Regions from separate parts of the Homo sapiens genome. Here regions 2, 3 and 4 are each linked to region 1. Evidence: fine-mapped expression QTL. A gene starts in region 1. Each other region holds a variant in brackets. All regions are shown on one strand. Distances are from middle to middle. Region 1 holds the start of PRDX6 (peroxiredoxin 6). Region 2 overlaps SLC9C2 (solute carrier family 9 member C2 (putative)). Region 3 overlaps SLC9C2 (solute carrier family 9 member C2 (putative)). Region 4 overlaps SLC9C2 (solute carrier family 9 member C2 (putative)).

Region 1 (5,153 bases):
CTTCCCCTCCAAGTCTTCCTACTGCTGCACTTAAGAGTAATTCAGTGACATGCTCCCATTTTCTTACCCATTTTCAAAAGACAAAAGGTTTCCTCCTTCAAGAGAATGGTTCCCACTTACTAAGCCCCAGAAGACCCCTGGAAAACACATATTTTGCTTAGTGAAGATGTACTATGAAGAAGCTGCTTCTACCACTTAAAGAAACAGCGATAAGGTAAACTCACCCAATGTAGCACCCAACCTCTTTAGTTGTTTACAATGATCAGGGGTAAGGTAGAGAAATACATTTTAATTTTTTCTTCTCAAAAATACCTGGATCAAAAATTGACAGTCTGATTTGGGATCATATACAGAATAGAAAATTGGAAAAATCAGGCAAAAATCCATGTGTTATAAACATATAAAAGGCTCAAACTTCTCTTCCCGGTAAGGTAGGGAATACTATACCTGATCCTAGGCAGACTTGTATATTAGTTAATAAATGCAGATATTTCTACCGTGTTCCTAACTATGGCTCCCTGATAAAGTACCACTTTTGATCAAATCTAGATGGATCTAGAGGCCAATAAACATTAACAAAACCCCAAAAAAGTATGGTTAGCTTAAAAAGTGACAGCATTTATAACTGTTGGCACAGTAAATACGTTTTATGCTAATATTTAATCTATACAAGCTAAGAGTTCTGGAAATAGTTTATGTTTCATGGGGATGGGGGATGAGGGCTGCAGGTAGAAATGGGAAGGAACACAACTCTAAAAATCCCAAGGATTGCTGGAGAAATATTACTACCTAGATCCTAAGTATAAGAATGGCCATAAGCTGTATTTCTAAAGTATTTTTCTGCATTCAAGGTTTGAATATTCCATTTCTCAACCTTTTTCTGGCCTAGTCCTATCTTTCACAAAGCTTAACTTTTCCCTATTCAGTGGCTGGAAAAGGGACTTAAGAGGTTATAAAGGGTTGGATAGGCATATGATGTGTAAGAATCTGTCCCTGGTTCTCTGCACAGCCCTGTCCAATCACTGATTAATTTCATAAGCCTGTCTCCCTGGATACTGTATATAAAAAGGATATAATCTGGGGAAGAACTGTTGTCAAGCCTTGGAGCCCCACAGTGTAGTGGGACCACTAGTACTCCAGAACCATAATATAACTAGACATGCCTGGAATGCTTCTGATGAAAACTAAGCAACTTCCAGTTTGCTGATTCAGGAGCTGTTAAAAAAAAAAAAGGGCAACACCGATTTACTACTCCTATCCATAATGGTAAAACTGCCAAGTCAGATCACAGGTCATCAATTTGGCTATCATCAGCAAGCTCATGTGCTAGAAGCAAGGTAGAAAGCGGAGGGGACAGTGAGGGGCAAGCCACTGGAAAACAAGAGAGTCTCAAAGTTGGGGAGTACACGTGTCCTGGAGCCTGGAACGGCCATCACTAGCAAGAATAGGCCACTCCAGCGGAACAGCGTCAGAAAGTCCTTCCCTCCAAGTGTTGCAAGTTCTGGAATCTCTGAAGGCACACCTACGCAGAGTGTTCTTGGCTCTTCCTAAAGCTGTTATCAAATCATATCTTGGCCATTGGAGGCGGCTCTGGACAAAAAGTCTTTCGGCCACCTACTTGGCAGCTAGTGGTTTTAAATTTCACATTTTGTGCCCAGAAGCCTGCAAATACCACTGCACCCTCAGATGATACGTTGGCCTTCCTGTAACCTATAGCCAGCAGCTGTGTCCTCCGACTTTGGCTTTAGACACCCATCCTCCCCAGGGAGCAAATTCCAGAACGGAGGGTGGGAGGGCGGTGCGACCCTGGGCACTAGTCCGGGGAAGTGATCGTCAATGCCGCCCCGCCCCTGCGCCCTCGGCCTGACCACGCTACCTGCACAGTTTACTAAGACGAGTTAAATGGACAACAAACCCTCCCGCGGGCGGTGAGTTTCCAGAACCCGCAGAACACAATTTTATCCTCCCCACCCCCCACCTTGGCGTGGCCTTGCCCAGCCACGCCGGAGGCGGGGAGGCCAGGAGGGATCGAGTGGCCCGCGCAGGGCAGGCCGAACGGGTGCCAGCTCCCAGCAGCGCAGCCGACGCTGAGCAGAGGCCACACGGCCTGGCGCGCGCCGGAACCAGTGCGGGGGAAGGCGAGGGCGGCGCAGGGGGCTGAGCGGCCGGGAGGACGGCAGGGAGAAGAAACAGGGAAGGCACCTCCGAGTCCGGCGCAACCGAGGCCAGGACAGGGCTACGCGGTGGCCACTTACGAGTCTCCCAGAAAGTCGTGGAAACGGATGCGGCCGACGGTGGTATTGGCCTCAAAGTTGGGAGCCACGTCCCCGAGAAGCAGACCTCCGGGCATGGCGACGGTGATGAGGGGGCGCCGCTGGGACAGCAAGCAACCGGTTGGTTCTGGCGAAGAAGCAGCCTGTCCCAGCGCGCGGAGGAATAAACGAAGGCGCGAGGGGCGGGGACTGGGGCGGCGGGGGCGGGGCCGCGGGAGGCCGGCCGCTGGGGGCCGGGCCGCGGGGGCTGGGCTGGGCGCGGGGCGGGGCGGGGCTGGGCGCGGGGCGGGGCTGGGCCGGGCCGGGCTGGGGCCGGGACGCGGCGCGAGCTGGACTACCGCGGTCGCTGTTGGTGGCGCCGCCGGGCCTGCGACTAGGTGGCATCCTTCAGACACTATAGGCCGTCTCTGCACACGTGATGCGGGGCTCGGTCACGTTGCCCCCTGGAAGCTTGAGGATGCGCCAGGTTTGACTCTGCAGGGCGTACGCGCTTTAGGGATGGAAGGAAGAGGAACGCGGCAGGAAGGCGAGCCCCAAGGTGGAGAATCGCCTGGGCGCGCAGGCTGCGGCGGCTTCGCACAGCCGCCCTGGGCGCTGCACGGGTCCGCGCGCACCCTGCTGCGCACCCACTCGCGGCCAGCTCCCTACAGAGGAGTGGAGTGACTGCTCGACTACCACCCCTCTTTTAGTGTGAGCGTCTGGAGTCCTGACCGCCCCAGCCAGCCCAGCTACGATGAACTGTCTAAGAGGATGTGGCAAGACCCAGAAGTATGGGTGACCTTATGTCAGAGGAAGTGGCTTTCTTATTGCAGCAAAAATTCCCGTACCAATGTCAGTGCTAGGGTAATGTAACTAAACTTTTATTTATTTTTATTCTGCCCTCCCCTTTCTGTTTGTTATGAACCATAAAATATTCAACACAATTATCTTGAAATCTAAATATAAAATTTAAAACATACTCTTTGAGACCTACTGTGTGCAGGTCAACTCTGTCACCCAGGGAGGTGGGCGGCTTAGATTCATTTATTTGCTATGAGCCAAGTACAAGGTAGATAAGATGCCTGTCCTCTTGGAGCTTTCCTTCTTGTGAAGGGAAACCGGTGACAGACAATAAGCACACAAACCAAAATATGTTAGACAGCAATCAGTCGTATTCAGAGAACTAAAATAGGGTTATGTGCCTAGAGGGTGACTGGGGGGCTGCTTTGGTTTGGGTGGTCTGGTCTGGGAAAGCCACCAGGATAATGTAGGTAAACTAGTCAGCTCACGGTAGGTGCTCTGGAAATGGTAGCTATCGTTTGGATGATGACACTGGCTCATGCAGTAACTCTTGCTTTGCCTGCTGTGTGCTGGACACTGTGCCAGGCCATACAGTGGAGAAACACAGTCCCTGCTGTTACAGGGAAGGCATATTTATATGCAATTATAATAAAATGTAGGGTAAATTCTGATGGGGGAAGGTGTAAATGATTGGAGTTCAGAGATGAGAAAAATCCTCTGGATGGGGCTGGCAGGTTTAAGGCAGGGGCATGGCAATGTTGAGAGTAGTGACTCACATACTGTGATTTGCGTTTTCATCACAGTGATGTGTTGGTGCGTGCATGCTAATCATATTTACCGAGTTCTTCAGTGACCCAGGACTTGCAGTAAGATTACTGGTAAAAATTTCTAGCCACTTCACAAAACCGTTTAAAGCTAATGTAATTTAATCTCTAATTTGGCTCCAAGTTTTAACAGCTCCTTGTTTTAACTCCCTTTGTAGGGAAGAAAGAGAATAGTTGGGAAAGAAGAGTAGTTTGGCCTAAGGCACTGTTAACAATATGTTGTGGAAATCAGCTAGAAAACACAATACTCTATAAATATGGAGAATGAATACAGAAACAGATTATTGATGTCTGTCAAAGGCATAATTATATTATTGTCTGTTGTAAATTAAGCAAATATAATAAAATACTCATTAGAATTTACAGTGCCAGAAGCTGTACACTGGCAATGCTTCTGCACTCTGTGAACTTGTTTGCTTTAGACTTTGGAGCATTTTAAATTGTCTTGAATTAGCTGTCCACTGAAGGGGGCCAGCCCCTCCACGCCTGTGGGTGTTTCTCGTCAGGTGGGATGAGAGACTGAGGAAAGAAATAAGACACAGAGATGAAGTATAGAGAAAGAACAGTGGGCCCGGGGGACGGCGCTTAGCATACGGAGGACCCGGCACTGGTCTCTGAGTTCCCTCAGTATTTACTGATCACTATCTCTACTATCTCGGTGAGGGGGATGTGGCAGGACTATAGGATAATGGTGGGGAGAGGGTCAGCAGGAAAACATGTGAGCAAAGGTCTCTGTGTCGTAAATAAGTTTAAGGAAAGGTTCTATGCCTCGATGTGCACATAGGCCAGATTTATGTTTGACTTTACACAAACATCTCAGTGCAGTAAAGAGCAGTATTGCCTCCAGCATGTCTCACCTCCAGCCATAAGGCGGTTTTTTCCATCTTAGTAAATAGAATGTACGTCGGGTTTTACACCGAGACATTCCATTCCCAGGGATGAGCAGGAGACAGATGCCGTCCTCTTATCTCAACTGCAAAGAGGCCTTCCTCTTTCACTAATCCTCCTCAGCACAGACCCTTTACTGGTGTCAGGCTGGGAGACGGTCAGGTCTTTACCTTCCCACGAGGCCATATCTCAGGCTGTCTCAGTGGGGAGAAACCTTGGACAATACCCAGGCTTTCTTGGGCAGAGGTCCCTGCGGCCTTCCGCAGTGCATTGTGTCCCTGGGTACTTGAGACTGGAAAATGGCGGTGACTTTTACCAAGCATACTGCCTGCAAACACATTTTTAACAAAGCACACCCTGCGTAGCCCTAAATCCATTAAACCTTGAG
Region 2 (5,153 bases), 94 kb before region 1:
TCAGCCACTATGAATTTCACACTATACCTTTCATATTCATTTTATTTACAACAGTGAATTTGGTAAGGTAAGAATAATATTTTAAAGTTTGTTTACTAAACTGAGATTCTCAAGGCCAGAATTAGAATTAGGAAGCAGTGGCATACAGCAAAAAGGGCTCTGGACATGGAGCCAGGAAACCGGCATTGTTATCAAGGCCTTGACAATAGCTTGCTGTGCAACTTGGGGTAAGTGTTTATTTTTCAAGATTTTATCCATAAAATGAGAGGGATCGGCGTCACCCATAAGCTAGACAGAAATGCATATTCATGAGCCCATCTCAACCTACTGAATCAAATCTCTAAATATGAGATCCAGGAAATAGTTTTAACATGCTCTTCAGGTAGTTTGTATGCATGTTAAAGTTGAGCATCACTGGACCAGATTAATTGCTCTTAACATTTTTGTTGAATTTCACCATAATTTATTATCGTCAATAGCTATGAGAAAGCCACTATCATGCTATGTACCAATAGCTGTGATAATGCAGTTACCATGTACTGTATGCCATTGATGTGAATATCACTTTGTGATGTATGTGTTATTGCATCACTTCACAGACGAAGCCCAGAGAATGTAAAAACCTGCCTAGAGTCACTCAACTCATAAGAGCAAATTTGGTATTTAAACCTGACTCCATGAGCATCCTTATTCTAGAATGGCATTGCCCACTGATGGTAGTTGTGTCTTCCATAAGAATTTATGGCAATGTCTCCAAAAACACTGTCATTTTCACTCAGGATGGTGGCCAGGGTAGCTTGTCTTATAGTATGTTCCCATGGAAACTTGAGTCTGCTAACGCAAGGCACTGCATGCAACTCAGATAGTCACTCTCACACAGAAGGCTGTGTACACAGCCCTGAGTGCTACCCCTATCCCCCACCTCATCAGAGTGGGGCCTAAATTGGTGCCTACCTGCTGTTCCCATGCAGCTGTGAAATCAGTAGCCATCTTATCATCTTTTCTCTGCCTCTCTGTCTGGACTCTTAAAAAACAGTTTTTAAGTTAGTCATTGCTCCCTAGTATAATTTAGGTGTTTATGTTTATTTCTGGATCCAAATTCCATCTCCCACACTTGTTAGCTTTGTGACTATGTAACTATGTGACTTTGGGTCATTACTTAATCTAAGTTTCAATTACTTATCTGTAGACTGGGCATAATAATAGATCATCTCAGAGGGTTGCTGTGAGGATTCAATGAGGTAATGCAAGTACAAGAATTTAGCACCATGCCTGGCACATAGTAAATGCTCAGTGAAGTGAGTTTTTGCCATGATTGTGGCTATCCTTATTTTCTCAGGATAAGACACAACTTTTGAAGCTTCAGAATAATGAAAGGATTCCCCAAAGAAATTATCAGTAGGTTTTAAAACAAAACATTATTAATAAAATTAAAACATGAAAACAAACCACCACTGTATTTGTTAATTCTTTCAGCAGATATTTATCAAGCACCTACTAAATGTCAGGCATTGTTCCAGGCACTTAGGACACCTCAGTGGACAAAATACTCTGAAAACATGAAAATTTCTGCCATCATGGAGTTTACAATGTAATTGGGGTTTTCAGAAAAAAAACCAAAATCATGTTAAATGAAGAATATAATATATTAGAAAATAATAAAGACTATGAAAATAAATAAAGCATGGTGAGGAAGTTGGATGTGCCAGCACTAGATGGCAAGCTGCAATTCAACCCAGTGGGCAAGGTAGGCCTCAATGAGAAAGTGACATTTGAATAAAGATATGAAAGAGGTGAGGGAGCCAGGCAGATGGGGGGAAAGACTCATAATTGTACATGCCCTAAGGGAAGGGCCAGCCTGGTATGTGCAATAAACAGCAGGGAGGCCTTGATCACTGAAACAGAGAGAGGGGAGAGCAGGAGATGAGGATAGATAGGTAAGTATGAAAAAAAGTAAGAGAAAGAACCCACGTATGAATACCTTTGTGAGTTAAGAAAACACCTGGAAGGATGTACATCAGCCCCGTAAGAGTGGTTACTTTCCTCTGGGGAATGGGATTTGTGAAGGGGAATAAAGTCAGGGCATTTTAGCTTTTAAAATGTTTACTGAGGATGGAGCAAGATGGCTGATGAATAGAAGGCTCCACTGATCATCCCTCTCACCCCCCTGCAGGAACACCACATTTTAACAGCTATCTGCACACAAAAAAGCACCTTCATAAGAACCAAAAATCAAGTGAGTGATCACAGTACCTACTTTAAAATTCATATTGCAGAAAGAGGCACTAAAGAGGGTAGGAAAAACAGTCATGGATTGCTGACACCACCCCTCCCCAGTCCTCCCCACCACAAAGCAGCTGTGTGGTGCAGAGAGAGAATCTGTGCACTTGGGGAAGGGAGACCACAGCAACTGGGGGAATTTGCACTGAACTTAGTGCTGCCCTGTGACAGTGGAAAGCAAAACTGTGCTGAACTCAGCCAGCACCTGCCCACAGAGGGAACATTTAGACCAGCCCTAGCCAGAGGGGAAGCACCCATTCCCGTGGTAGAAACTTGAGTTTCTCAGCAAGCTGTGGGATACTAAGTGAACTTGGAAGGCAGCCTAGGATATAAGGACTGCAATTCTTAGGCAAGTCCTGATGCTGTGCTGGTCTCAGAGCCAGTGGACCGGGGCAGTGC[G/A]TGACCTAGTGAGACAGCAGACAGGGTGGCTTGGGGAGTATTTGTGCCACCCCTCCCACAGCCTCAAGCAGCGCAGCTCAGAACAATGAAAGTGACTTCTTCCTTCTGCTTGAGGAGAGGAGAGTGAAGAGAACTTTGTCCTGCATCTTGGATACCAGCTCAACCACAGCAGAATAGGGCACTGGGCAGAGTTTTGAGGCCCCCAGTTCAGGCTCTAGTTCCTGGACAACATTTCTAGACACACCCTGGGTCAGAAGAGAAACTGCTGTCTTGAAGGGAAGGACCCAGTCCTGGCAGGATTCATCACCTGCTGACTAAAGAGCTCTTGGGCCTTGAGTAAATAACAGCAATACACAGGTGGTATGCTGTGGGCCTTGGGTGAGACTCAGATGTGCTGGCTTCAGGTACCAGCTTGGCCACAGTGGGGTAGACACCAAGTAGGCTTTTGGGGTCCCAAGTCCAGGCCTAGGCATTCTTGAACTTGCCCTGGGCCAGAGGGGAGACCTCTGCCCTGAAGGGTGAGTCCCAGGCCTGGCAGCATTCATTAAAAGCTGGCTTGAAGAGCCCTTGGGCCTTAAGTGAACATGGGTGGTGGTGTGGCAGAACTCCCTTGGGACTGGTGGTAGTGGTGGCCATAGGGAGAGGCTTTCCTGCCTGTGGAAAAAGGAGGAAAGAGTGGGAAGAACTTTGTCTTATGGTTTGAATACCAGCGTAATCACAATAGAATAGAACACCAGGCAGATTTCTAAGGCTTTTCATACTACTTTTTATTTTTTATTTCTTTTTGGGACAGGGTCTTGCTGTGTTGCCCAGGCTGGTCTTGAACTCCTGGGCTCAAGCGATTCTCCTGAATTGCTTGAGAAGAAAGAATTAGTCAGCTTGAAGACAGACTATTCAAGAATACACAGTCAGAAGACGCAAAAGAAAAAAGAATAAAAAAGAATGCGGCACACCTACTAGGAAATAACCTCAGAAGGGCAAGTCTAAGTGTTATTGGCCTTAAAGAGGCAGTAGAGAAAGAAATAGGGGTAGAAAGTTTATTCAAAATGGTAATATCAGAGAACTTCCCAAACCAAGGGAAAGATATCAATATTCAAGTACAAGAAGGTTGTAGAACGCTGAGCAGATTTAACCCAAAGAAGGCTACCTCAAGGCATTTAATAATCAAACTGCCAAAGATCACGGATAAAGAAAGGACCCTAAAAGCAGAAAAGAAGCCACTTACAATGAAGCACCAATCAAGCAGAAATTCTAGAATAAAAAATGCAAGTGACATACTGAGGAATGCATTAGAGTCTCTTAATAGCAGAATTGATCAAGCAGAAGAAAGAATTAGTGAGCCTGAAGACAGGCTATTTGAAAATATGCAGTCAGAGGAGACAAAAGGCAAAAGTCTGGCAGCAGACTTTTCGGTGGAAACCTTACAGACTAGGAGAGAGTGGCATGACATATTTAAAGTGCTGAAGGAAAATAACTTTTACCCAAGAATAGTATATCTGTGAAAATATCCTTCAAACATGAAGGAGAAATGAAGACTTTCCCAGACAAACAAAAGCTGAGGGATTTCATCAACATCAGACCTTTCCTAGAAGAAATGCTAAAGGGAGTTTTTCAATCTGAAAGAAAAGGATGTTAATGAGCAATAAGAAATCATCAGAAGATATAAAACTCACTGGTAATAGTAGGTACACACAAAAACATAGAATACTATGACACTGTAATTGTGGTGGGTAAACTACTCACATTTTGAATAGAAAGACTAAAAGATGAACCTATCAAACATGATAATTTCAACAAATTTTCAGGACACAGACTTACTGGTAATAGTGGGTACATGGAAAATCATGGACAATTATAACACTGTCTGGCAATTCCTCAAAGAGCTAAAAGAGGAACTGCCATTTGGCCCAGCAATCTCATTATTGGGTATATACCCAGAGGAATATAAATCATTTTACTATAAAGACACATGAACGTGAATGTTCATTGCAGCACTATTCACAATAGCAAAGGCATGGAATCAACCTAAATGCTCATCAATGCCAGATTGGATAAAGAAAATGTAATACATATACACCATGAAATACTATGCAGCCATAAAAAAGACTGAGATCATGTCTTTTGTGGAACATGGATAGAGTTGGAGGTTATTATCCTTAGCAAACTAACACAGGAACAGAAAACCAAACACTACATGTTATAACTTACAAGTGGAGGCTAAATGATAAGAACTTACGAATACAAAGAAGGAAACAACAGACACTGAGATCTACTTGAGGTGGGAGGATGGGAGGAGGGAGAGGAGCAGAAAAAGTAACTATTAGGTACTGGGCTTAATACCTTCATGATGAAATAATAGGTACAACAAACCCCTGTGACACGTGTTTACCTATGTAACAAACCTTCACGTGTACTCCCAAACCTAAAATAAAATATTTAAAAAACGCTGTAATTGTGGTGTGTAAACTACTCCT
Region 3 (5,153 bases), 61 kb before region 1:
TGAGGTACATTTTCTGTCTTCCGAGTTGCCTCAGGTGACAGCCTGGCCAGTGGTACTGCCTTTTGATAGCATGGCTGCCTCCCTCCAGCCTCCTGCTACAGTTTCCCCACTGCTCTTCCAGCTTCCACTAACAGTCTTCTCACTGCCCCCCTACCCTCTGCCCACCACCCAGTTCCAAAGCTAATGCAGTATGTTTTAATTTCTGGAGGCTCTCCACAATTGATACTGATTTTTCCTGTTTTAGTCAGCGTCTGCTGTTTAACCAAGCAACCCAGACCTTGGTGGCTTAAAGCAATGATTTATTATTTCTCATGGTTCTGTGTGTTGGCAATCCAGGTGATTCTATTGTTGGTCTCGCTTTGGATCACTCTTATGCCTGTGGTCATTTCCTAGATCAGCTATGGTTGGAGGGTCCAGGATGTCCTCACTCGCAGGTTTGGCAGCTGATGCTAGTTGTCTTCCAGGGTGCTTTGTTTCTCCCCTCTATGGCCTATTCTGTATAGTTGGCTGGACTGGGCTTCTTCACAGCATGGTCTCTGGGTTCCAACAGGGTGAGAGGGGAAGCCACAAAGCCTCTTAAGTTCCAGGCTCTGGAGCCTGAACAATGTCACTTTTACCCCCATTTTATTAGTCAAAGCAAATCACAAAACCAGTCCAGAGTCAATGAGTAGAAAAGTAGATTACACCTCTTAATGGGGAAACAGCGATGCCAATTGCAAAGTGGGCATGGACACAGAGAGGCATGACACACTGCAGTCATTGTTATAATGACCTACCACATTTACTTTTTTAAACCAACAATCCCATGGAAGGACTTGCTGCATGCTATTTTTGAATAGCTTTCCTAAGAGTACCTTCTACTCTGGCATTCTTCCTGTGTTTATGACCCCTTTCCTTTTCAGTCTCCTCTATGAACTCTTTTTAACCCTTTAATGTTGGTGCACCTCAGGACAATTAACTCTGTCCACTGTTCTTATTTTATAGTCTCTCCTTCTTTAGTCCCAGCTACACTCATGATTTTAACACTATGCATAGATGCTCTACAAATCTGTAATCTTCCTTCCATACCTTTCAACACCAGCTCTTTAGACTCATGAATCCAGTGGTGGCTAGACAGCTTCTCCTTTCACTCTACCTCAAATCCATATTGAACTCATCCCAAGCCTACTGTTATATTCCAAGTGTTAGTGAATTAGACCATTGGTTGCTGGAGTCAGTCCTCTTCCTCTATCCTTCTCCAAGCTCTATCAATCTTACCTTCTAAATGTTTGTCAAATACACCCCTTTCCATTCTTGTGAATCTTAATTTAGGCCGTCATAATCTCTTGTCCAGACGATAACTTTCAATTGGTCCCCTTGTCTCCAATATTTCCATTCTCAAATTATAGTGACTTACTAAAAGACATGTGACTATACCTCCTTCCTGCTTAAAACCCTAAATGACTCCTCAGTGCCTACATTTTCCATTGTGAGTTTCAAAGAACACTTGTTCCATGGGATGCTAATAGAAACTGCATGAAAAAAGAAGTTTCCATGCTCAAATTAGTTTGGGAAATGGTGGCTTAAATAAAGTTAAATGGGTTTCTTTTAGAACTTCTTGTAGAACTCTTCAGAATTTTTAATATGCTGATATACATTGAGATTCTCCAAGAGAGACTATAGAATGCAACATTTTCTTACCCTTTCCCCTGCCCTGCATAGTTTTTCAGGGATTGGGGTTGAAGGAGTATCTCACAGAATGTGTATATCACATTCCAAGAAAAGTTTACCTATGATATTAAGTCAAAGCACAATATACAAGGTATTTTAAAATCTGGCCTCTGACTGTTTCTCTAACTGATGCTCTGCCCCACAACTTGTTTTTTACTGCACTCAGCATACTGTTTCTCACCTCTGTACGTGCACTAGAGATGCCACCCTCTGCCTACCTCTTTCTTCACTCTGCTCGCCCCACGACCATTCTTCATCTGGATAATTGTACTTCTCCTTAAAACTCAGTTGAAGTATCATCTCCTCCAAGAGAAACTCTCTCTGATCCCATCTCTACATCAAGTCTGATTAACACCCTGTGCTGAATGTTATCCCCTTAATTTCCTGTTTTATCATATAAGCATCTAACTTTTCCCCTGCCCCACTAGATTGTGAACCCCTTAAAGCCTTGGACTATACCTCCATTGCCCTAAAACAGGGCTTGGAACAGAGTAGGCATTTAATAAACATTTGTTTAAAGGATGAATGAATAAATAAACAATCCATCATATTAGTAAATCATAATTTTCTTGATCCAGGCCTACTTCTTGATGGGCAGGGCCGGAAAAACTGCAAGTGTAAACACTGGAGGTAGGCCTCAGGACTGAACTTCTGGGACATAGTTTTCTCACAGTGGACATCCTACCAGGGCCATCACGGAGGCTTACAACGTAGGGAAATCCACTAAGTGCTCCAGTAGCCCTCAGAGTAGAGAGAGCCTGGCCATTGCCCCATACCGTTTGGAAGGCAGTTTCAGAATTTGCATATCCTTTATCAAAGCTGTTACTGGTGGATAATTTTTCTGTCTTCTGGAAAAGGAGCTAATGAGTGAATGAGAATTGTCTTGAGAT[A/G]TAAGTGGTGTGAATTCTCTCCTTTCCTGAAATGACTATCATCCCTCAAATTTTAAGACTTGAGAAAATGTGTTAAATGCAGTAGTGGTTGGAGTCAACATTTCTAAACAATGGATAGGCAAAGTGTATGGTCAGTATGTGAGGAAATGTAGGCAGCAGTTCCAGGAGGTAACGCTAACCTCTGAATGTAATGTCAGTGTCATGTAGAAGCTATAATTTTTCTGCTATTTTAGGGGGAGGATTGACACAACAATACAGCCTATCTTTTTCTTTTGATAGTTCTTTGTGGGGCTGAAATGATTAGTTACACTTAGAATTAATACTTTGCACTCTCTATTCTGCTGTAGAAAGATGATGCTACTGATGTTATTTATATTACTGAAGTAAACTCTTTGAGTTGTATATATAATATGCGTATATATGTGTGTGTGTATATACATATATATACATATATATACACACACATATATATACACACACACATATAAATTTTTGAGACGGAGTCTTGCTCTGTTGCCCAGACTGGAGTGCAATGGCATGATCTCGGCTCACCACAACCTCCGCCTCCTGGGTTCAAGCGATTCTCCTGCCTTAGCCTCCTGAGTAGCTGGGATTACAAGCATGCGCCATCATGCCCGGCTAATTTTGTATTTTTGGTAGAGATGGGGGGTTTCACCGTGTTGCCCAGACTGGTCTTGAACTCCTGGACTCAAGTGATCCCCCTGCCTTGGCCTCCCAAAGTGAGCCACCATGCCTGGCTGAGTGGCATACATTTTGATTTTCTAGAAAGCTAAGACCCTTTTTATCTCATAACATTCAGGACTATACTTTATAAAAATGAGTATTCTGTAAACATTTGCATTGAATGATATTTATTTCCTACTACATAATTTTTTGTAATGGCATATTTTGATATATTGAGTTCAGTAATAATAGTGAGGGCTATGTAAGGGTTAAGAAGAATACATTCCATTTATGTTTTGATCTTTTGTAATCTTCATTTAATGTATGTTTAGAGTAGCTTTGAAAAACAGCGTAACAATGGAATTCTTGAAATAGAGGCAGCCCGGATATTAATTGGTGCAGCAAAATGCTATTACTCCATCCAAGGAAAGTAAGTATAACACTTCTTTAATTGATATTTCCAAAATTGAATGACTATATGATGAAGAATGAATAAAATGAGAATTAAATGTCCTGATTGATCAATCTATTATTTCACATATCTGTATGTATCCATCTTCTGTCTGTCCATCTGTCTGTCCTTCCATCCATCTATCCATCTGCTTTTTATTTTATTGGTTTATTTTTTTCCTCTAAAGTTTTATAACCTTGGTGACATTAGGGGAGTCTGGAGAAAGATTGGACTGTCATGTAATTAGATAAGACACTCGGGAATCCATGAAAGGGAACTTATATAACCTCAATAACTATTATAATTATTTTGCCTTTATATTATCTTCACTTTAAATTACCAGACAGAGGAGGTTTAGAAGCCTGGAGGCTGCCATTAGACTGCTCCCTGGGGTGGAGCAGGCTCTGGAAGAATTGACCCAACTGCTGGTGCTGACAAGTGCAATTAAGTCTGGTGGGAAAAGCTCAGTATCTTGGAGATATAACAATATCTGGTTACAGTCCTGGCAAACATTAGATAATAGATGATCTAACACAAAGCTGTGGGGCAATAATAATAGGAGATCCTGGCTGGGTGATAGATAACATTTCAGCAGCCAGGTAATCTATTTGGAAGATCTTTACCAGTCCCTGGAATAAAGTTTGGGAAAGTTAGAGCTTTCAGGGCCTTGGAGAGGGTTGGGCCAGACCAGCATGACAAAGGAAAGCTTGATTCCAAACTCCAAATGGTCTAGAGAAGCTTTACTTATGTTCAACCTCTGGTCAGGAACAGAGGCAGCAGGAGTCTCATGCTAAAACTACTCCTGTACCATGACCATGGATGGATAGGTGGATGGATGCAGAGGCATGAGACTGAGCTTATTTGGTGGGTCCATATTAAATTTATACTTAGTACACCTTCCCCTTTTATATTAACCCAAAGTATAGCACTTGCTTTTTATTATAACACATATGTACATTTTTCTCTGTTAGATTCATGAGTATTTATGATGTTTCAACTTATATGAGAACTAGAAGTTGGCTTATAAAGTTTAAAAATGTTTTAACTTTCTTGGAATATTGTATAGAAAAGATACATTTTATTCCACCTGAGTAAGTATTGTGAACCTTTAATAGAAACATACTTGAAAATACTACCATTTCTACATTGTCATAATAGCTTATCTCAATTTTCCTTATTTGAGAAAAACTATATTATGGTTTATTTTCACTGATTGGGTGGTGCTTGCTTCTCTTCTTCCATTCTATTTTAGCAACTTCATTGACATCTCTATGAGAGAGTAGTCAGGAAGGGAAAAAGGATGTTCATATTTGGATCCTTCAAGTTTTAATTGCTGTGTCTGAGGGTTGTAGTGTGTTGCGGGCTGCTTAATATTCTTCTGGATATAACATAGAGCAGGGGTGAGAAATAGCTAACTG
Region 4 (5,153 bases), 41 kb before region 1:
AGATACTGAAAAAGTTTAAATTTTTAATGTGATGAAACCATTTCTACTCTGAGCATGACAGCTGAGAGGTGAATATTCAACACCTGAAATGTGCTTCCCATTCTACAAAATGCTGTCATAGTCTTTACTTATTTCCAGCAATCCTGGGAGGAAGCAGGATTTTTCAGAATGTTCAGAGAAGGAAATCAATACTTGGCGTGGCTTAAATTACTCACCTAAAGGAAATAGAATGAGGATCAAAAATACAGCTTTTAATCTGTCTCATGGGAGGCTTTTGTTGACCAGAGAGAGAGACAGAGAGAGAGAGAGGGAGAGAGATTTCAGTAGAGTGATGGGGACAAGAATCCTTTGTATCTGCATAACAGTAGTTTAGTAGCTGGTTTCATGCGTGAGCCCCATTTTGTGAACCAAATAATTCCTAGATCCTGGATGATGGTCATAAAATGACAAATCCTTAATATGGCAAAAATAATACCATTGGCTTTCTGGTTTTGAAACGGGTATATTAGACCTTAAAATATCATGGAAATAAACTACCATAATAAATAGAATACTAACACAATATAACACTTATTTACTATCTGGCACTATTCTAAGCACTTTTCATTCATTCATTCACTCATTTATTCAACAAAATGTTTGCTTCATTACCACCATGTGGCAGGCACTGTTAATTCTAGGCATGGGATTGACAAAACAGACACAAATTCCTGCCTTCTTGGAGCCTAATTTCTAGTAGAGGGATAAAAGGAGATGGGACAATGAACAAAACAAGTAAGTTTACAGTATGTTACAGATGATGGAGGTATGAAGAGATTAGTTGTGATTTTTTAAAAGGTAGTCGAGAAAGGCAATATAAGCTGGGCATGATGGCTCACAGCTGTAATCCCACCACTTTGAGGGCTAGGTGGGTGGATCACGAGGCAGGAGTTTGAGACCAGCCTGGCCAACATGGCAAAACCCTGTCTCTACTAAAAATACACAAATTAGCCGGGCATGGTGGCATATGTCTATAATCCCAGCTACTCAGGAGGCTGAGACATGAGAATCCGAGATCCTGCCACTGCACTCCAGCCTGGGCGACAGTCTCTGTCACTCAGTCTGGAGTGCAGTGACACCATCTCAGCTCACTGCAAGGTCTGTCCGTCGGGTTCAAGTGATTCTCCTGCCTCAACCTCCCAAGTAGCTGGGATTACAGGATTACAGGCACGCACCACCACGCCCATCTAATTTTTGTGTTTTTAGTAGAGACGGGATTTCCCTAGGCTGGTGTTGAACTCCTGACTTCAAGTGATCCGCCCGCCTTGGCCTCCCAAAGTGCTGGGATTACAGGTGTGAGCCACCGAACCAGGCCAACAACCCTATTTTTTACATGAGAAAACTGATGAACAGAAAAAAAAAATTCACTTGGCCCCAACTACACATACTCAGAGGCCAAAGATTACTTTGAACCCATGTAGTCTGTCTCCAGTATCCATGTGCTTAGCCATTATACTATACTCCCATTAGAATTCTAGGACAAACACACTGCTGCCAGTATTTATGAAATACGGCAAGTCCGATACTTAAAAGCTGCAACTTGCTGTAACATGTTTCTTTGGGGATTTTCCTGCCATGACTGGACTAGCTAAACCTTCTTAAACTATAGTCCAATAATGTCTGGTCTGAAGAGGTTATATTAGTACTTTTTTGATACCATAACAAATTACCACAAATTTAGTGCTTAAATATATTATCTCATGGCTGTGTAGGTCAGAAATCCAATGGGTTCTGCTGATTTCACTGCTTGGGTCTCAAGAAGCTGAAATCTAGATGTCAGTAGTGCTATGTTACCTTCTGGAAGCTCTAAGGGCACAATCTGTTTCCAGGCTCTTTGAGGTTGTTGGCAGATCTAGTTATTCTTTACGGCTATTGAACAGAAGTCCTTGCTTCTTCAAGGCTGTCAGCTGGAGCCCACCTTGAGCTCCTAGAGCTTCTCTTTTGTCCTTGCATGCAGGTCCTCACATCTCAGAGCAAGCAAAGGCATATGGAATCCTTCACACATCTCTCTCTGATGGACTCCCTTCTACTTGCGAGGGCTCATGTGATTACAGTCCCCGCAATATTCCCGTCTGTTGTTTAATCAAATACTAATCTGGTACAGCTGTGAAGGGACTTTGTAGATCTTTTTAAGGTCAGCTGATTAGTAGCCTTAACTCCAAAAATCATCTTTTTAAGGTCAGCCAATTAGCAACCTTAATTCCACTACAAAGTCCCTTCACTGCAGTCCCTAGATTAGTATTTGGTTGAACAACAGACAGGAATCTTGGGGGGGCCTCCTTTAGAATGCTGCCTACCTCAAATGCCATCATCTTTTCTTTGTTTGCAAAAAGCAGAGGCATTCTTCATTGCTCAAAGATCCTTTGAATTGCATTCAAAATTACAGCCATTAAAAA[C/A]AAATTCAAACTCTTCTGGAAGCATGAATGCCTTTAAAAGTCTGAATGCTAATTGCTGGGAGAGAATGACCTTTTGCTTCCTGTTTCCTGTGTCTTGAACAAGAACCTTCCTCTTTGATGTTTACAGCTAAACTTTCTGAAAAATTCTGTAATCTTTCTAATCCCAATTCTTTCAGCTTCCCCCTAAAATCTGATACCGCGGTTCTTTCTCCAGCTATGCCTACCAGTTATTTTCTTGAAGTAACTCAACCATCCTATGTTCATCCTAAAACCTTTTCCTGTTGATATTGCATGGTAATTTTTCTAAAGCATTTTAAAAAGAGACAAGGCTTTCATTAACATCATGGCTTGGTTTGGAGGCATATTAATTCATAATATCTGATTTATGTGCCCATGCAATCAAAAGTTATTTCCACCTGATGCATTAGCCCATTGCGGTAAGAATATCTAATGGACTCAATGAGTGATTGCATTAGTTGCATACTATAATTTCCAGTTTTGGTGGGTTTTTTTTTTTTTTCTTTGAGATGGAGTCTCACTTTGTCGCCCAGCTGGAGTGCAGTGGCACGATCTTGGCTCACTGCAACCTCTGCCTCCTGGGTTCAAATGATCCTCCTGCCTCAGTCTCCTGAGTAGCTGGGACTACAAGTATGCGTCACCATGCTCGACTAATTTTTGTATTTTTTTTTAGCAGAGACGGGGTTTCACCATGTTGGCCAGGCTGGTCCCGAACTCTTGATCTTGTGATCCGCCCGCCTTGGCCTCCCAAAGTGCTGGGATTACAGGCGTGAGCCACTGCGCCCAGCCCTGGTGGGATTTTTGTATAAGACAGGTATAAGTAGAAAGTTGTAAATAGGGGTCATCTGTAAAACTAAAGATTAGAAAAAAATCCTTGCCTTGGGGAGTTGAAATGTTAAAGAAATCATGATTTTTTTTTCTTAAGCCTAATTCTTCTTTCACACCTGACAGGAGATCTTTCCCTTCCATTGGAAAGTTGTAAGAAATAGTGGGAGCTCCTATGATTTGATCAAAGGGTTTTTCATTTTTTCTTTCCCTTTGCACACTTTTTTTCCCTTTGCAGTTGCATAGTTTATCTCCTACCTTTGGAATAGAGAGTAATCAAAGGTGTGATAGAGGGTCCAGAGACATGTTTACAGAGTTCTGTACTACTGGGGACATAATTGGAGAGCTAAGCTGTCTGCTTAAGCGTGAAATTGAATATACCGTCATCTGTGAAACTAGTTTACAGGTAGGAAAATGGTTCTGTCATGAGTTATTAATTATTCTTCAAGTAAATAAAAAATACCAGCATCTTTTCTTTTTTGGGGTTTTGACATCTTAGTCACCCAACCAGCTATTGGGAGGTAACATAGCTGAAAAGGCAGATTTAGTGTCTCACATCCCAGGCTCTGCCAAGCTCCACTGCATCCTGCCTAAGGGAGTAGTTATTTAACCTCCTTAAGTCTCAGTGTCCTTGTTTATGAAGTAGAGAGAATACCAACCTTTTGATGTTATGAGGATTAGGAAAACATCTACGTAAAATGCCTGACACATATAGGTGCTCAATAAATGGTCACCATTATGACAACAGTGTTTTTAAAGAATATTTATTTGTTTTTAAAACAACTCCATTAAAAAGTGGGCAAAATATATGAACAGATACTTTTCAAAAGAAGACATACATGTGGCCAATAAGCATATGAAAAAAAGCTCAACATAACTGATCAATAGAGAAATGCAAATCAAAACCACAATGAGATACCATCTCACACCAGTCAGAATGGCTGCTATTAAAAAGTCAAAAAGTAACAGGTGCTGGAGAGGTTGTGGAGAAAAAGGAACAATTACACACTGTTAGTGGGAGTATAAATTAATTCAACCATTGTGGAAGACAGTGTGACGTTTCCTCAAAGACCTAAAGACAGAAGTACCATTGACCCAGCAATCCCATTACTGGGTATATACCCAAAGGAATGTAAATCATTCTATTATAAAGACACATGCACATGTATGTTCACTGCAGCACTATTCACAACAGCAAAGACGTGGAATCAACCTAAATGCTCATCAATGATAGAGTGGATAAAGAAAACATGGTACATATATACCATAGAATACTATGTAGCCCTAAAAAAGAGTGAGATCATGTCTTTTGCAGGAACTATGGATGGAGCTGGAGGCCATTATCTTTAGTAAATTAATGCAGGAACAGAAAGCCAAATATCACATGTTCTCACATATAAGTGGGAGCTAAATGATGAGAACACACAGACACAGAGAGGGGAATAAAACACACTGGGGCCTATTGGAGGGTGGAGGGTGGAAGGAGGGAGAGAATCAGGAAAAATAACTACGGGTACTAGGCTTAATACATGGGTGATGAAATAATCTGTACAACAAACCCTCATGACACAAGTTTACCTATGTAACAAACCTGCATATGTACCACTGAACTTAAAACTTAAAAAAGGAATACTTGTTTGTTTTTAAACTTCCTTCTATGTTTCATTTGCTAAGTAAGAAGTTATCTATTCAACACCTAAGTGTCCTGACATTTCACTAGGTGTGGGGAATTCAAATAGAAATGAGCCAAAGACCAAGGGACAAAGTGGTTCGTTAAATGGGTCCTGCTCCCTGTGCCACCCAACTGGGTGATACCCTCCAATAGGGGTTATCAGACACCCTATACAGGAGCGTTCCTACTGGCATCAGTTCGGT

What was found. PIP is the estimated chance that this variant, and not a neighbour inherited with it, causes the effect. A credible set is the group of variants that fine-mapping cannot tell apart.
Region 2: its variant is the best candidate, but not a certain one, in a credible set for the expression of PRDX6 in whole blood (TOPMed, PIP 0.57).
Region 3: its variant is the best candidate, but not a certain one, in a credible set for the expression of PRDX6 in whole blood (TOPMed, PIP 0.84).
Region 4: its variant is the best candidate, but not a certain one, in a credible set for the expression of PRDX6 in whole blood (INTERVAL, PIP 0.61).

What each region holds. Positions count from the first base shown.
Region 1 is chr1:173,474,595-173,479,747 of GRCh38, reverse strand. PRDX6 (peroxiredoxin 6) reads right to left here and starts at 2,413. Exons shown (of 5, transcript NM_004905.3): 1 at 2,256-2,413. The coding sequence starts at 2,350. It overlaps LOC100506023 (a long non-coding RNA gene), which reads left to right and starts at 2,593. Exons shown (of 3, transcript NR_037845.1): 1 at 2,593-3,116. RefSeq lists enhancers at 2,215-2,374, 2,872-3,408 and a silencer at 2,445-2,614.
Region 2 is chr1:173,568,096-173,573,248 of GRCh38, reverse strand. It overlaps SLC9C2 (solute carrier family 9 member C2 (putative)), which reads left to right. Exons shown (of 28, transcript NM_178527.4): 9 at 1-67. Among named protein-coding and RNA genes, the nearest start is that of SLC9C2, 32 kb to the left of the region's middle. The variant G/A (reference allele first, on the strand shown) is at 2,680.
Region 3 is chr1:173,535,503-173,540,655 of GRCh38, reverse strand. It overlaps SLC9C2 (solute carrier family 9 member C2 (putative)), which reads left to right. Exons shown (of 28, transcript NM_178527.4): 14 at 3,617-3,714; 15 at 4,707-4,826. Among named protein-coding and RNA genes, the nearest start is that of PRDX6, 61 kb to the right of the region's middle. The variant A/G (reference allele first, on the strand shown) is at 2,601.
Region 4 is chr1:173,516,068-173,521,220 of GRCh38, reverse strand. SLC9C2 (solute carrier family 9 member C2 (putative)) reads left to right here. Exons shown (of 28, transcript NM_178527.4): 23 at 3,517-3,684. Among named protein-coding and RNA genes, the nearest start is that of PRDX6, 41 kb to the right of the region's middle. The variant C/A (reference allele first, on the strand shown) is at 2,436.